2 separate regions of the Homo sapiens genome follow, and region 1 is linked to region 2. Evidence: fine-mapped expression QTL. Tissue or cell type: lymphoblastoid cells. Region 2 holds a variant in brackets; the other region holds the start of a gene. All regions are shown on one strand. Distances are from middle to middle.

Region 1 (8,182 bases), 130 kb after region 2:
TTAGCAAATATGTGATGTTTTTATTACTCAGGAAAAGTGTACAGAACTACTTTCAAAAGTACTTTAGGGACAATACACTAGAAGTGTTATCAAGAGATAAATTGCTTTGTAGTTAAAAAGTGAAAACTACAGCCTAAATGAAAGGAAGGGAGAATAAAAGGAAAATCGTTATTTTTTTCAGCTTTCATTATACAAAAGATGTTGCCCCAATTTACCAATGAAAAGACACTGAGGGCCACAGTGGCCCTCTGAGACCCTCTTTCCAGGGTCACATAGCTGAAATATGTGGCCAAAACAGTATCTTTCCCAAGGCTTGTAACTGTAGGCCCTTGTACTACACTGTGCTATACCTGGTAGAAAAGAATATAGATATACAAACTAAAAAACATCACTTATTTTAAAACTTGTTATTTCATGAAATGGCAGACCATAATGATTTGGTGTGGACATTAAACAAAAAGAGTTTATATGCCTCATTAAGATAATTTTCTGGAGCTCTGAATCCATGGTTTATACATAATGGGTTCAGTATATTTTGTTTAGCCACAAAATCACTATTGTTAAATCTTTAATTACTGAAATATGAAGTTACGCAATTTATTTTTGAAGTCTGCGTATGCTACTCACCAAATTTTTGTTGTTTAAAAAATATTGTTTTGCAATTTTCAAAATACATTAGCCTCATAGTGCATATAGCAATCTTAAGACTTTATCAACCTCTGATTTCTAAACACACATCCAATATTCATCACTTTCCTCTGCTGAAATTATTTCCCACTGGTGGAGTACTTTTTTTCTTTCTAGTGCGATGACATGCTACGGCACACCATCTTATTGTTTGTGAAATCAATACTTAAGTTGATTCAGGAAAAGTGTATGAAACGAATTTCAAACATCTTTTAGGGGCAATTCACTACAATTGCCCCTAAAACCAGTTATAAGATAAAACCAGGATTTGGATAACAATGATGGACAATATTGTCATTGTCATCCAAATCTTGGTTTTATCTTATAACTTAATTCAGAATGTTATTTGATGCCTATTTAATGGCTAGGGTTGCTATGTTTCTTAAATACTCATATTGTTTTTCTAACGGTAATACCATAAATCTAAGCCTGTATTTTTCTTTTTACAACTGATATAAAGTGCATTATGATATTTTAACTATTTATCTTCCTCTGAGAACTGCTGGTTCTTCTATGCTGCATAAATATCTCTTAAGGTAATTTGTAACCTAGTATTTTGAAGATTCCAAATACACATTTGAAAATACTATTTTCCTGGATTCTAACTAAGTTGCAATACGTTGAATTAACTCAAAGAAAACAACTCTCCATATGCAATAAGCTATTTGATTATATGATTATCAACACCTATACAAGGGAAGAATAGCGTTAACTGAAAAAATTATTTTTACTAATGGTTGTTTTTTAAATGCTTTTTTGTATGTTGACTTCAATATGGGTTTGTTTGAAATTGTGTAGTTTCACATGTCAGATATAATAAAGCAGCTTCAGTGAAAAGATTCAACCGACGAGAAGCTACAAGTTCCTCAACTTGCCCACATTCGCATTCCCACATTTCCAATTTGTTCCCCCGCTTCTTTAGGCAGTACCTAGCCTCGGCACGGCTGCTTCCTCTTCTTTTTTTTTTTTTTTTTGGCACGGCTGCTTCCTCTTCTTCTTTTCTTTTTTTTTTTTTTTTTTTTTTTTTTTTTTTTTTTTTTTTTTTTGGGACGGAGTCTCACTCTGTCGCCCGGGCTGGAGTCCAGCGACGCGATCTCGGTTCGGTTCACTGCAACCTCCGCCTCCCGGATTCAAGCCATTCTCCTGCCTCAGCCTCCCGAGTAGCTGGGAATACAGGCGCCCGCCATTACGCCCGGCTAATATTTGTATCTTTAGTAGACACGGGGTTTCACTATGTTGGCCAGGCTGGTCTGGAACTCCTGACCTCGTGATTCGCCCCCTTCGGCCTCCCAAACTGCTGGGATTACAGGCGTGAGCCACCGTGCCGGGCCCTCTCTCTTCTATTTAAAAGGATAGGCACAGCCTTTGGAACTGAATGTCTTTCCTCAGGCCTCATAATAGAAAATGAGGAAAGTCCATTCTGACAACTGGCTGCCTTAGGCAACAGAATTTGGGATTCCTACCCTTCCAGCTCCTGTTGAGTCAAAGGCAAAGGCAATAACCCAATAAATGTGGTGAGACAGTAAATGGAAACTGACATAAAAATAGCAATAAAAGCCTACTTCCTTCTTGACAATCAATACATAATGGAATGGGTATGATTTTACACCATAAAACATCAGAGAATAATAGAATATGGGCTGAAGAAAGCTCAGAAGCCACAACATTTTCCCCACCTTTTGATTTTCAAAACGATTCTTAAGATTTGTCGGGAGTATTTGTTTTCAATTGTTTCAGTGAGGCTCAGTTTTGACCACATGCAACCAAAATAGAGAATTTCATGGAGGATGGTCACAGGATTGGCTTAGAAAAATGTAATCCTGTGAGCTGTCCCCTTTCATAAATAATAAGGTTCCGACGGCTGCACCGAATGTTCCTCCTTTCAACGAGGTTGGGCCGAGGTTGGGCTCCCAGCTGCTGGGACATTTTTAGTCCATCTTGGACTCTCACCTCTGCCTCCTGCTCAGCTGTCAGAATGCCAGGCGGCTCTGCAGCCCAAAGCCCACTCCGTTTTAAACTTGCTCGTTTGCAATCACGTAACCCGCTACTGACGACAGAACCCTCAAGGCCCATTTATATGCGGTTCTCAAGTTTAGGTCTAGGGAAGTTTCCAGGAAGCTTAGTGTTCGGGGAGGAATTCGTTTTGCTTTTGCTAATCAAAGAGACACAAAAGCACAGCTGAGTCCCGAAGCTGGCACACGGGAAATCGAGGTACCACTGTCCCCTCACCGGAGCGCGCAACAATCACTTGGGGAGCGGGGAAAAGGTTTCCACCTTCCCCGAGCCTGGGGCACCTTCGCTCCCACCGCCCCAGCTGGTGGTGGTCTCGACACCACGCTCGTTGCGGGGTCACACGCCAGAGCTGGAAAGGGGAGGTCCAGCCCCAAGTAAAGCGACAAAGTAAGGACACAGTGGTGGCCAAGGGCTGTCTCCTAACCCCAGTCCCGAAAGACAGTGTGGAAAGTCCGCCGGCGCGCCAGCCCTTGAAACTCTGCCGGTCCGGCCGCGGCCCCTCCCCTGCGCGTCCCCACCTGTTGTGAAGCTGCCCAAGCTCCTTCTTGCCCAAATGCTTTGGAAACTGCCAAAGGACACTCAGAGGCCAGGGAATGTAACAGGCAAGCATAAATATGCAGAAGAGATGGAACCAAAATAGCGGGCAGGCAGGGCCGGCGCTCGTGGGGGTCGGTGATCTGGAGCCGGGCCCCCGCCGCCGCGGCCGCGCCAGCAGTGCCAAGACCTGGCGGGCGGCGCCGGCGCACTCCGGGCACCGAGTCTGCAAAAGAGGCCCTGAGCGGACCGCCGGACACCTCGCAGACTGCGGGCAGCGGTGGTGGCGGCCGCCTCTCCGGGGCTCCACGGCCGACCCGCCGCCCGCCGCCGCCATCCCCGGCCCGCTCCTGCCGGGTCCCCGACTCGAGCCCCGGAGGCGCCCGCTCTGCGGGACCGCGCAGCCCGGCTGCATGGAGCCCGGCGCGGTGCCCCGGCCGGCCGAGCCAGCCACGGCGCGAGAAACCGTCGCCCGCCACGGCGAGGGCAGGAAGAAGATGGCGGCTACCGTGGCGGCGGCGGCGGCGGCAGCGGCCTCACACGCGTCGCTGACGCCAATGGCTCGCGCCGGTCGGCGGGCCGCGGATGGCGGCGGCGGCGGCGGCGGCTCGGGCTCCGGCGAGGGGCGGGGCGAGGCGGGGAGGGGGCCGGCCGGAGGCAGAGGCTGGAGGGAGGCGGCGGGGACAGTTTGTTGTGCTCGGAACATGGCGGGCGTCGGCGACGCGGCCGCTCCGGGAGAAGGCGGCGGTGGCGGCGTGGACGGCCCGCAGCGGGACGGCCGCGGCGAGGCGGAGCAGCCGGGCGGCAGCGGCGGACAGGGGCCCCCGCCGGCGCCTCAGCTCACAGAGACGCTGGGCTTCTACGAGAGCGACCGGCGGCGGGAGAGGCGCCGGGGCCGCACAGGTGAGGCGGGCGGCGCTAGGCCGTGGCGGGCTCCGAGGGGCGGACTGGGGACCGAGGGCGGCGGGGGCGCCTTGGAACCCCGGCCCCCGAGCCGCGCGGCTGCCGTTGCCTCCCGGGGCTCCCCAGGCTGTGGGCGCGCGGAGCCGCCGAGGCTGCCGAGGCTCCGCGGCCGTTGACAGTTCCTCGGGCGGGTTGCGCGCGCAGCCCCGAGGCCCCCGCGGCCGCGCCAGGCCAGGTGTGCCCTAGAAGGGGTCTGCGGCCGGGAAAGTTCTGTCCGGGTCCTTGCATCGCCCTCGGAAGGTCTTAGGTTAGCGGGCATCTCCCACGTCTCGGAGCCCAAACGTGAGAAGCACACGGCTGATTTCTTAATTATATTCATGCCAAGGTGACTTTTTTTGTTCTGTATTTTAAGCAAACTTGAGCCATAGAAACCTGTTAACTTGCCCTGCAAGTAGATTTTTCACAGACAGCTGACGGTGTGGTAGTGACCATGAAGTTCAGTAGTTTTGCCCAGTACAGAAATATTTAACACTCCATAAAATGTTGCATCTGAACTTTTCCTGAACTGAAACTTATGCCAAAAAAATTACTAGATGAGAAAATGTGTACTTATGAATCCTACATTCAATGACCAGTTTTAAACGTATTGTTACAATGTTACAGTTTCTATAAGCTGTAGGTTTTTATTCTCATTTTAAAAGAATTTTTAAAACTTGCATTTGTATTCATATTGCAGTTACAGATTAGTTTTAAATGAAAAAAGGTTTTGAGATGGATGTCTTCTTGAATATAGAGTGAACCCAACGTTTTAATTCTCAAGCTGTAAACAGCAACTGAACCATAACTCCATTAAATTTCTTCCAACTAAAAAATTACTTCTGTTGTCCAAAAGGGGCTGTGTTAGCCGTTATTTCCTGAAGTTCATGCAAATAACTAAGTTGTGAGGCTGATTACATCATTGATTGTACTTGAGTACTGAAATTTTAAAACTACTTAAGGGGCATAAAGTTGATCAGATGCGATTCTAATTGATTTGCTGATTCCCAGAACTGGACGTAGGTTCTATTTGAAGCAGTCTATATTTTTGGAAAATTACAGACGGTCTTGTTTGGTCTTTTTCAATTAACCACTTAAAAATTCTCAACCATACTTTATTTGGTTTAGTTCTCAGTTAAACATTTGCTTTCAAGAGTATTTACTTTCTTCATTGGCAGGATCTCAGTAAGACAAAATAGCAAATCTCTCAACTGTCTGTTTACTTACTTAGACTTGAATATTAAAAGCACTCTGTTGTAAATAGAGATAGATGTAGCCAGGCTTCACTATACTTTCTTTAAAACATTTCTCAGTTGCAGGAAAGCCACCATTTTAAAAGCCTTTTTTTGTTGTTTGCGTGGAGAGGAAATGAAGTTGTTTGAAGCCTATTGATGAGCACAGATCTTGAGCTTGCAGTATCACTTAACACTTCTTCCCTGGCTTTTTCTGGGACTGGATACCTGGACTTCCATGGACTTCATTATACCACGTATCCATTCTTCACCAACATGGTTCACCATGTTTAAGGCTGGATTTTTTTTAACCCATAGTTGCAGGAAGTCATTATCAGGGAGATGCCTCCAGGTTTAGCTGTTGGGGTAGTCCTTGTTCTTTCCCCAGTTCCATTGATTTTGTGTGAGGAGATGTCAGTGGCCACTCCTGCTTTACCAAGTCACACTAGCCTTGGCGATCAGGATTTAGGTGAGAATTCCAAATTCCAGGAGTATTTCAGCTGGAGCCACTGGCCAGTGTTCTCTCTGAGCCTCCACATAAGCCCCTCCTTCTTTTCCCCTGGTGTCCCTGCTCTGCTAGTCACATAGCTCCTGCCACTGCTAGCACCCAGTCTGTAGCTCCGATAACCATATTTGTTAGAGGTTTCCCCACTAGAAACAATTATTTTAGTCCTTCTTCAATGCCCAGGCTGCTAAGTCTAGCGCTGCCCTCTTCCCCTGCTCTGTAATCCTTCCTTCCCCTCCTTTTAAGAATTTTTAAAAACGATTCCCTAGGAGCTGGCCTGGGTCAGAGGGCCTTTGAGTGGCAGCACCTGGAGTCATTTGGATAGCATTTCTCCCTGAATCAAACTAGTCCTCCACGGCTAGATGCTCGGACTTAAGGTATTACTTGTTGATTTTTTTATATTCTTGTGTGCCTCTGAGAGTCTAGCACCACTGCCCTTGAGATCTAGATCCCCCTGCAAGTTAAGGCAACCTTTGGCTTTTCTTTTTGAAAGTCATAATCTTAGTGTCTTGGTGGCTGAACCATCAGTCAGTTCCAAAGTTCCCTTTATCATTTCTCACAAGGAATTTAGGGCTCCTACAGGTAAGACATTTGTTGATCAGTCCCAACAGCCTAGAATTCCCTAAATGAATGTACATATTAGGTACTTATCCAAACTCTTTCCATCTGAATAAAATAAAACGTGGTGTCTGAGGTTCATTTTTTGTTTTATATCTCTCCTTGTTGATTTATATGTTTAGAAACTAGATATGTATATTTGTCTGTATGAATAGCTGTATATGCTCTATATTGTATTATACTAAACATGTGTCTCCATTAAGTCTAAGCTTTCTTTTCCTCATCACTTCGTTCTCAGAACTCCCGTTCTGACTTATATTTAGCCTGGCAATAGGCTGACGCATGTCTCAGATGCGAGTACTTACACCTTTTAACATAGTTAGAATTGGGAATCCCACTCATCATTCCTGTTTTTATTTGCTCTCTCAGAATGGTCATTGTGTATTTCCTTGTTGCATATGTGGTTACTGGCCTTGAACTCTGGATGTAGTGGTTATCAAGAACTGCAGATTGATCTCTTCTGTATTTTCTTCCTGTCCTTGAAAATACTACCAACTTCTGTTGTTCCTTTTGACATAAAACCAAATAATCAATGTTATGTTTTTGTGCTTGTTCCCCACTTGATTCATCTGCAGAAGTCCTAGGTAGGAGAGTTTCTGTATAGCCATATTTTTATTTAGGAATCTAAGTACAGCAAATCAACTTTGGACTAAGCATTAGGAAATCTGTGTTTTTGGCTTGGTTGGGTTGTTGAATTGCTTTGTAAACTCTGTGCTTGCTTAGACTGCTTGCCTAATCAGTTTGGTTCTGTTTCATAATGCCACTACTAGATAGTTCAGTATCTGAAGCATCTAGGTTGCTTCTAGTCACCATGGAGACTTAACAGAAGGCTTGGTGTAAATAAGGGTAGCACCTGTGAGGGTAGCACAGGTGAAACAGTACCTGTGTAATGCAGGTGTTGGAGATGCATGGGGATAGGTATTGCTTGTAAAACAAGAAAGCCTGAAGTCGGGTATAGGTGAACATATTGTTTCTACTGGTAACAGTGCCATGGACCCATTTCTTTCTTCTTTAACAGTGACTCTGGACTTCTAAAACTTCAACTTATTATCCATCTCTTTTGCCTCTCTCCTCTCCCTTTAACCATGGTTAGACCTCTTCTTGCTTCACCTCTGTTAGAGATTGAGCAGAGGCAGGAAGAATGAAACCCAGAAAAGTCAACTGAATTTTTAGCAATACCCTTAAAAGATTTCGAGTGGGACGAAGGTTTTAACTATTCATATTACCTATGTCTTATTCTTTGTGTAACTGAAAATTTGTCAGTTTCTTCTTACAAATACATTTTTATTAAAATATGTTTTCATTTAACCAGTCTTCACCTATATCACATAGTTATCCCAGTGGCCCCAAACTTAACCAAATGGATGATTAAAGGGTGACTGATTCTAAAATTATGATCTAGAGCCAATTAATTTGTTCACAAAGAAAAATAAAAATAATAAAACCGGGAAATTACTTGGAGTAACCACAAACCAGATACAAAGTAAAATTAGCTACTTCTGACAAACTATTGCTTTGCTTTTAAAATTCTCACTTGCTTTACTTAATTAGTATATATAGACCAAACGAACAATGAAAAGTTACTTATTTTGGTTTTTGATCAGTTCAGTGTCTTGGCTTTTGACAGTTTTTAACTTTAACTTAGTTTACGCTC
Region 2 (8,182 bases):
TTGCTGGCATGAAGGTGATCTTTCAGAATATCTTGATAGTTCTACGTCCTATAAATGGGCAAATACAACAACCATCGTCCTGTGGAACTATATCCTATATCCTCTGGAGGAAAGACCTCAGCTAATGACTGACTGACATGGGTGTACAAAAGACTAAGCACCCCTTGACTCAAGGTAAGACTAACTCTGCTATGTTATTTGTGCTTCAGAGCTTCCCCATGGGAACAAACTAAGGCTAGCCTCCAGTTGAGGCCCCATTCTTACTTAGCTTTTATTCCCTCCCTATTCTGCTTCCTTCATTCCCCTCTTCTACGACCATTTCCTGGAAAAAATTACTTGAACAAAGATACCTGTTTCAGCAGCTCCTAAGGAATTTTACCTAAATGACAGAGAGTTTTAATGGTTTTGTTTACTGATATTTCAAAGGTTCTAGAAAGCATGGGACACAATGGGCCCCAGATAATATTGTTGAATAAAAGTTTAAACCATATCATACTGAATTGTCATGCTGGGTTTAGTTGCCATCATTTATTCATTTAGTAATTTCTTTTACTCACATAATTGGCTTTTATCTAGTGCTTCCTATGTTTTAGGCTTCATGCCAAGTGTTGGAGATACAAAAAACAACGTAAGTCTGTGCTCCAGTTCTGACGGCACTGTCAGCCTTGTCATGTAGACATATCGATAAACTGACTCACTTGAGTACGAGATAACGAATGCTAATGTTATGGATTTAACTGTATGCCCTCAAAATTCATAGGTTCTATATTTTGAGATAGGACCTTTAGGGAGGTAATTAATGTTAAATTAGGTTATTAGAGAAAGGCCTTAAATCAATAGAGTTGGTATACTTTTCAGAAGAGGAGGAGGCACCAGAGCTCGCTTGTGCTCTCTCTCTCTCGTTCTCTTTCTGCATGTGCACAGGGGTAAGACCATATGAGAACACAGTGAGACAGTTGCCATCTGCAACCCAAGGAGAGAGGCCAACCTTTGTTGGCACCTTGATCTAAAAATCAACCGTGTTGGTACCTTGATCTTGGGTTTCCAGCCTCCAAAACTGTAAGAAAATTAACTCCTGTTGTTTAAGCCGTCCAGCCAGACAACCAGAAACATCCAAGACCAGAGACTTGGGGCAGCCCAAGAAGACTGATATAGCTACTATACAGTGAGGGCCCGTATCTTCCATGTCTTTGCCCTGAAAGAGAAACACAGATGCTGGCACACAGTGGGCACTCAATAAATAAATAAATCACTTGAAAAAATTTCTCACAGCCTTATGCAATGCTGAGACCTGATTAGATCTTGTCAAGCACAACATCTCTCGCCTTCCATACCTCCCTCTCCCTAGCACTGTTTCAATTCTCCAACTCATGCTGGGAAAGCCATTCCATTCCTCTTTGGCTAATAAACTCCTGTTCACCCCTGGAGCATTCTCTGATCCTATTCCACCCTGAGATCCAATAGGTGCCTTCTCCAACCCGCTGGGTCTGCCTCTTCCATTGCATTCAGAATTTTGTACCACGATTTTGTGTCCATCTGTCTATCTTTTCTATGACTTAATAATATATCAGGAACTGTGTACCCAGAACTTATCAACTGGTTTTTTTAACATCCAAAGGAGGATTGGTGTATAGAAAAAAAAAAATTACCATGACTTGGGTTTTTATTGATAGTAATTTACTTACTTTTTTAAATTTTAAAATCTGTCATTCCTTTAGCCTTTAAATTCAACTTTCAAGTCCAGTATATTTGCTTATAAATTTAACAATTGGGAGTGAAAATTAAAAACATTCTCATTCTTTAATTTCTGCTAATTTATAGCATAAATTTCACAGATTAATTTTTCCTAAGCATTATTTTCAAACTTCAACAAATTTTTTCAGACATATCAAATTAAAGTCATAAAGCTTATAAACAACAAATTAAAATCTCTCATACTATCTAAAACTTAATTAAGTTTCCTTAAACATGTCAAACTATGATCATAAATTGAATATATTTTATTTTCTCAAGCTAACTCTTCCAACTTTAATAAATATGAATTTATCAAATTAGTAGATCAGATACAGGTAAGCATTTCAATATCTTCAAAAGCAATATATAAATTTGGTAACTTCAGTTCTCTTAAGCTTTAAGCAAATGTAATTAAATAAAACCATCTTACAATTTAAATTAAAATCTTAAGCCAGATTCTCTAGAATGTCATTATATCTTAAATGTTTCAAACATCCTACCAAGTTTATCCAAACAACACAATGAATACAAAAGTTTTCATTACACTTGTATAATCACAATTTACATGAAGTTTTAAACACCAAATTTATTTTTTATCATCTCTATGCTTATATTTTGTACTTTCCTGTAGTTACAAAGTCACTTATCCAACCAAACAGAATAGAATTACCATCTCAGCCCTACTTTAGCAAATGAAATTACAGATTCAATGTTGTCAGAGATTTGAGACACAGGTTGCACATTCAAGGGATTTGTGAAAGACTTGGGAACACATAACCTAAATCAAACTGAGAGGAAACAGCCAGAAAAACACAAATTAACAGACATTCTACAAAACAACAGACTGTACCCTACAAAAATGTCAATGTCATTAAAAAAAAGAGAGAGAGAAAGAAGGCCAAATAGACATAATGACTACAAGCAATGCATAATCCTGAATTGGATTCTGGATTAGGGAGAAAAATCATAGCCAAAAAGGCAGCATTGGGACAATTAACAACATTTGAATGCAGACTATATATTGGATATCAGTTTTAATAAATGTAAACTTCCTGAGTTTGATAATTGCATTGTGATTATATTGGAAAATGTCACTTTCTTTAGGGTAGTGACATTGAAATATTTGGAGTGAAATGTAAGATCTCCACAAATGGTTCAGCAAAAGATAAAAATAAGAATAGTGAAAGGAATAACAATGTGAGCACATTTGTGTGTAGAGAGGAAGATAGAGCAAACATGTGGCACAAATGTTAACAGTAGGTAAATCTAGATGAAGGGTAGGTTCTTGCAACTTTGCTACAGTTGTTTTTACAAAATAAAAAGTTAATTAAAAACAAAATTAAAGATTAAAAGTAAGATTTTGAATGGGATTATGCAAATTTGGATGTCACTTCAAGAGAATAAACTTGGGCGATAGATTATTTTATGCAACAGAAAACCACTGGCAAATTTAAACCATAAACTGCTCTACCATTAGGATACTGGATTCTTTAGAGCTGAAGGAATATTGGGAAACCAGCTTCAGAGGCTGTGCTTGTAGGGAAAATGGCAAAATTCAACTTCCTTGCGGGAGGACAACACTGTGTCATTGCTGAGATGAGGCATGGCAGGGTGCACCACCAGTACTGCCTGATAGATGCAGACAGTGAAACCATCACCATGGCCACTGCTCCTCTAGAAGCTGGATGCTGCTGTTGTAGCTGTTGCCACGTGCTACCAGAATGAATTATCTGCTTTTCTTCGCATCGGTAGCTCACAATTCACAGCCTAAGGCACCTGTATCTGATTACCCGAGTCCAAGGCACATACCAAAGCATTGGCTGCATGGAAGCTAGGAAAGTCAGAATCTGAATTTCAGGGTCTGTAATGTCATCAAGTCTCTGTCCACTGTCATCAAGTCTCCTAAGGGATGGGCTTCCTAAAGGAAATGGATTCCTTGATGGGGAAAAATAAGAAAAAGGATACACATCTAAGATACACAGAGGACCTCTCTAAAATGGGCCCACTGTATCTAAGGGGCCACCATAGCCAAGCCTTTCATCTGGGATTTGACTTTGCCATCCCAGTATCACCTCACCCCTTTCCTAAGACAACCTCTTTCAATTCTCATCATTGATGGAGTACACAGAAGTCTGCTTTCAACAAAATATTTTATTGGCTAATTGTTGAATTATTTGACCCTTTACACCCCCTTACCCTTTCACCACCCTAGTCAGGATTGTGACTGATGTCTCCTGGTTATGAATTGTTGTGGGACATTCCCCAGCCTTGTTTCCACTTTCTTATTCATCTATTGCTCATTATTTAGTAAGCATCTACTGTCAGGACCCAGTGCAGGACCCAGAAGGTGGTGAGCGCTCCAGCGTGAGGACTGGTAAATGAACACATGAAGGAATGGCTAAGTAGTAAATGGATAAATAAATTGATGGATACTATAAAAATTACCTCCCTGGCTACACAAATGACATATAAAGCACACAAATCCTGACCCATAACCACAGACACAATTGCAATCTATTCCTTGGAAAATCTTGGCTGTGTTGAAACATGAGAGTTGATTTCCTAAGGCTGCTGTGTCCACTGGGTAGTGGGGGGCTGCAGAAGGGGTGGACTCTGTTCCTACCTGTGTGTGGGAGGAGAGAGGTCTCTTCTGTGTCATAAGAGATGGCAGGGCCAGCTATAGATCCATTCCTACAGCAGCATAGAGTAGGTTCTTTCCATCCTGGGGCCACCACATCCACTCCTTAGAAGGGATAACAAGCGACTAACTTTGCTCATGGCTCTGAAACCCCACCCAGACACTGAACTACGAAAACAAACTGGTTCATTCACAGATTCTAATTTTTTAAGAGAGATGAGTAGGACACAATGAGTTGATCATCAGTGTTCAGAATCGACAAAGAGAAGCCAGTCGCAGGGCAAGTTCCCCAGCCATCCCATATTTTCTCTCTTTTTCTTGGCCTTCCTTCTGCAGCCAGGGACCTTGAAGCCCAAAGGCTGAAAAGCCTATTATCACCAGATAGAAATGTAAGTAAACAAGGCATCACAATAATGAATGCTAAAGCAGAAGGCAAGAATGGGGGGAAGGACCTCTT[C/T]GCTGCAAAGGATTGGGCTGGAACTGGGCCATTTTCCAACTACCATAATAATAGAGGGCTTTTGTTGGTTTCTAGACATGTAAGTCAAAAAGGATACTTCAAGACAAGAATGGAAGGAGGAAACGGTTTCTTCACCATTGACCCTCAATCTGCATTCCAAAATTGGCTTCAAGGCTAAGAAGCTCTAATCCTTCAACCAAACAGAGGGAGCTAAAAAGAATGGATTTGAAAAGACCACAGGAAATAAGAGTGGCTATAGCACTCGGGACATAGCCCTAGTCAAAGGATTTGCGGACGTTAAAAGGAGACAAAAAGGAAGAGTCAAAAGATTATCTGCAGAATATGTATGAAACACAAGGCTGAGACCAACTGAATTACTGCCCTTATTTCTCTCCCTCTCTGTGGATGTTTTAGACACCAAATCTGGGATTCCAGAGGCTGCAGCTGATATGATTGGAAATGCCGTGCATCTGTTTGTGAACTTCGAGTCTAAATTGTATTAGCGTTAAGTGATAGGGACCCCGTTTGCAATTTGATAAGCAGGAGCCGACTGTTTCTGATGTTTTACTAACAATTTGGGTAAATACACTGAAACCAATATGTTCAGCCAGGTGTTGAACGCATTTAGCCCAGCGTGGAATGGGTCTGCACAAATCTGTATCCCCAGATGGAAGAAGCCGAGTTACAAATTAGTGCAATTCAAACAGAAGAGGTTTGACCAAGGGAGAGCTTAAAGAGATCAAAGGAAAAGCAGAGGGAAATTGGATACAGTTGCATGCCAGTTCATTAGGAGGCAAAGGGGACTTAATTATTTTTTATTCCAGTTTTTTCTTTTTTTTCTCAAAGAATTGGGTTAATGCTCTTACTATTTCAGTTTGGCCTTAAACTTCCCAAAATTATAAGGAAGCGCTGTGTCACAGTAACGTGTTAAATACTAAAGAATTTTATTCTATCATTATTAATCTGGAACCAGGCATGAAATTCCAAGTGTATTCAAAATCAGAACCCAATTTTTAAAAGGAGTATCTACATTTAAGTGTCATCAAAGAGATCTGTTTACATAGTGTGCCATAATTTTTAGGATTTCCATTTATTTCTTTTTATTTCCTCTAAAGAATAAATTATTTTAAAGTTATAATTAACTAACACAATAGCTTTTTAATTATTCTCCTATTATATCATTTTATCTCTCTCTGTAGACATGTAAAATCATAATGATTTAGTTGTTTACCTCCCTGGTTGGGGGTCTTGCCCAGAAATAGAATGATAATTAGTTTTTAAAAAGAAGAATTGGAATCATGGACTGTGTCAATGGTGAGTTGTCAACCATAATCCGTGTATAAAGGACAAAGAGACAAGACTATCCAGGCAGTATGTTAACATTATTTACAATGTCCCTAAAATTCAATTTGTAACCAAACAGCATGGTGCTGTTCAACTCCCTTGAAGTGGGATTCTAGAATGGAGGAGAGAGGCTAGCAGACAGGAACTATGTAACATGGGAACTAAATAAAAGTGCAGACATGGACTCAAAGAGGAAGTGGTAACATCCAGAAGAGTGGAATCCATAGCAAAAGACCTAAGATGGGTGCTGGCTGCAAATTCAGAAAAATTAGGAGTAATATTAGGTCTTTTGAGGAAAGTCTGAGAACTTTATTTGCAAGGTGCTCAAAAGAATCCTGTGGGAAGAAACTCATGCTAAGGAAGAGGCCTCACGAGGAAAGAGAAGGGAGGTTAGAGATGGGGTCAGAAAGACAAAGAGGAGACAATATCCGCCTTGTAGGATGGAGCTGGGAGTCTGGATTTTATTCCAAGGTCAATGGCACACCTGTGTGTGTATTACCAATTGAAATGCTACCAGGTGCTAGACCTGTTCCAGATGCTGAAGATACAGCAGGAACACACCTTCTGGTCTCTCGAGCTCAATTCTAGGAGGAGGAAGCAACACATAAATGAACAAACAGGGTAATGCTATAGGTTTTACAAAGAATTAAAAACAGACTGATGTGATAGAGAGACTTGGGGCTACCTTTTTACACTGAGTGATCGAGGAAGTCTCTCTGAAGAGTTAAGTTAAGAAAATTATAATGAGCCACATTTGCATATGATTTACCACGGACAAGCCCCCTGCTAAGTACTTACAAACTTTAAAGTTGTTGAGGGAAACTGAGGCAAAGGTAATTTAAGAAACTTATCTAATGTCCCTTGCTGAAAATTGTTGAATTTTAATCCAAGAAATCTGACTCCAAATCCCTCATTGCTTACCAGTATATTCTAAGTGACATTGCCTGAATGAGAAGAGATGAGGATTATCAGGAGAAGCAAGTCATGGGAGTCACTGGGGAAAGAGTAGTCCAGGCAGACAGAGGAGTAAGAAACAGCAAGAAGGCAAAGAGGTCTGGAACAGTGAATCAGGGGAGGGAGGAACAGGAGCAAAGTCTGAGAGACAAACAGAGGGCAGAACACATAGGGCCTTGGAAACCAAAAGAAGCATTTCTTCTAAGGGAGACGGGGTTTTTTTTGTTTTGGTTTGGTTTGGTTTGGTTTTTTGAGACGGAGTCTCGCTCTGTTGCCCAGGCTGGAGTGCAGTAGCATGATCTTGGCTCACTGCAACCTCCACCTCCCAGGTTCAAGTGATTCTTCTGCCTCAGCCTCCCGAGTAGCTGGGAGGTGCACACCATCACACCCGGCTAATTTTTGTATTTTTAGTAGAGACAGGGTTTCACCATATTGGCCAGGCTGGTCTCAAACTTCTGACCTCGTGATCTACCCGCCTTGGCCTCTCAAACTGCTGGGATTACAGGCTTGAGCCACTGCACCTGGCCATAGATGGGGGATTTTAAGCAGGGGAAAGGTGTGATCTCTTTGGAGTTTGCAAAATACTACCTTGGCAGCTGGGTGAACAATGGAATGCAAAGAGAGAGAGCCAAAGTGTTAGCAGAAGGAAGAATTTTAAGGAAGTGCAAGAGAGAAATGCTGCTGGCTTGTATGATCATGGCCAAGACTGACTTGAAAAGAGGTAGTGACAGGGTAACTTGGAGATGGAGCTGGCAAGGCATACTGCTGGAATGAATAAAAGGCATGTTGGAAAGAAAGGAAGTAAGAATGACCATTATGTTTTTATCTTGAGCAACTGGGTGAATGAATGATGAATGGTAGTGCCCTTTGCTCAGATTGGCTAGGTGGGGAAGTGATGGAAGGAAGAGGGGATCAATGTTGTGATAAGGAAAGTGGAAATAGAGCAGGGTAATGTAAGCTGGCACGGGTATCAGAGGAGGAAATGACTTTTAACGTAACACCTTAGGTCATTCACACATTCCTAAAGGTCATTTAGGAAACGTAAGCCATTCTCT

Alleles and levels. Alleles are on the strand shown, and positions count from the first base shown. SD is a standard deviation of normalised expression in the study named.
As copies of C replace T in region 2, the expression in lymphoblastoid cells of the gene that starts at base 3,733 in region 1 goes up (small effect, 0.37 SD a copy in GTEx).

The links. PIP is the estimated chance that this variant, and not a neighbour inherited with it, causes the effect.
Region 1: it holds the start of TAPT1-AS1, and the variant in region 2 is fine-mapped to the expression of TAPT1-AS1 in lymphoblastoid cells (GTEx, PIP above 0.99).

What each region holds. Positions count from the first base shown.
Region 1 is chr4:16,222,214-16,230,395 of GRCh38, reverse strand. It overlaps TAPT1-AS1 (TAPT1 antisense RNA 1), which reads right to left and starts at 3,733. Exons shown (of 3, transcript NR_027697.1): 1 at 3,219-3,733. TAPT1 (transmembrane anterior posterior transformation 1) reads left to right here and starts at 3,925. Exons shown (of 14, transcript NM_153365.3): 1 at 3,925-4,137. The coding sequence starts at 3,939. RefSeq lists an enhancer at 2,813-2,872 and silencers at 3,383-3,582, 3,643-3,712, 3,723-3,822, 3,833-3,882, 3,993-4,372.
Region 2 is chr4:16,348,633-16,356,814 of GRCh38, reverse strand. It overlaps LOC124900674 (a long non-coding RNA gene), which reads right to left. Exons shown (of 5, transcript XR_007058064.1): 5 at 1-1,195. Among named protein-coding and RNA genes, the nearest start is that of TAPT1-AS1, 130 kb to the right of the region's middle. The variant C/T (reference allele first, on the strand shown) is at 4,830.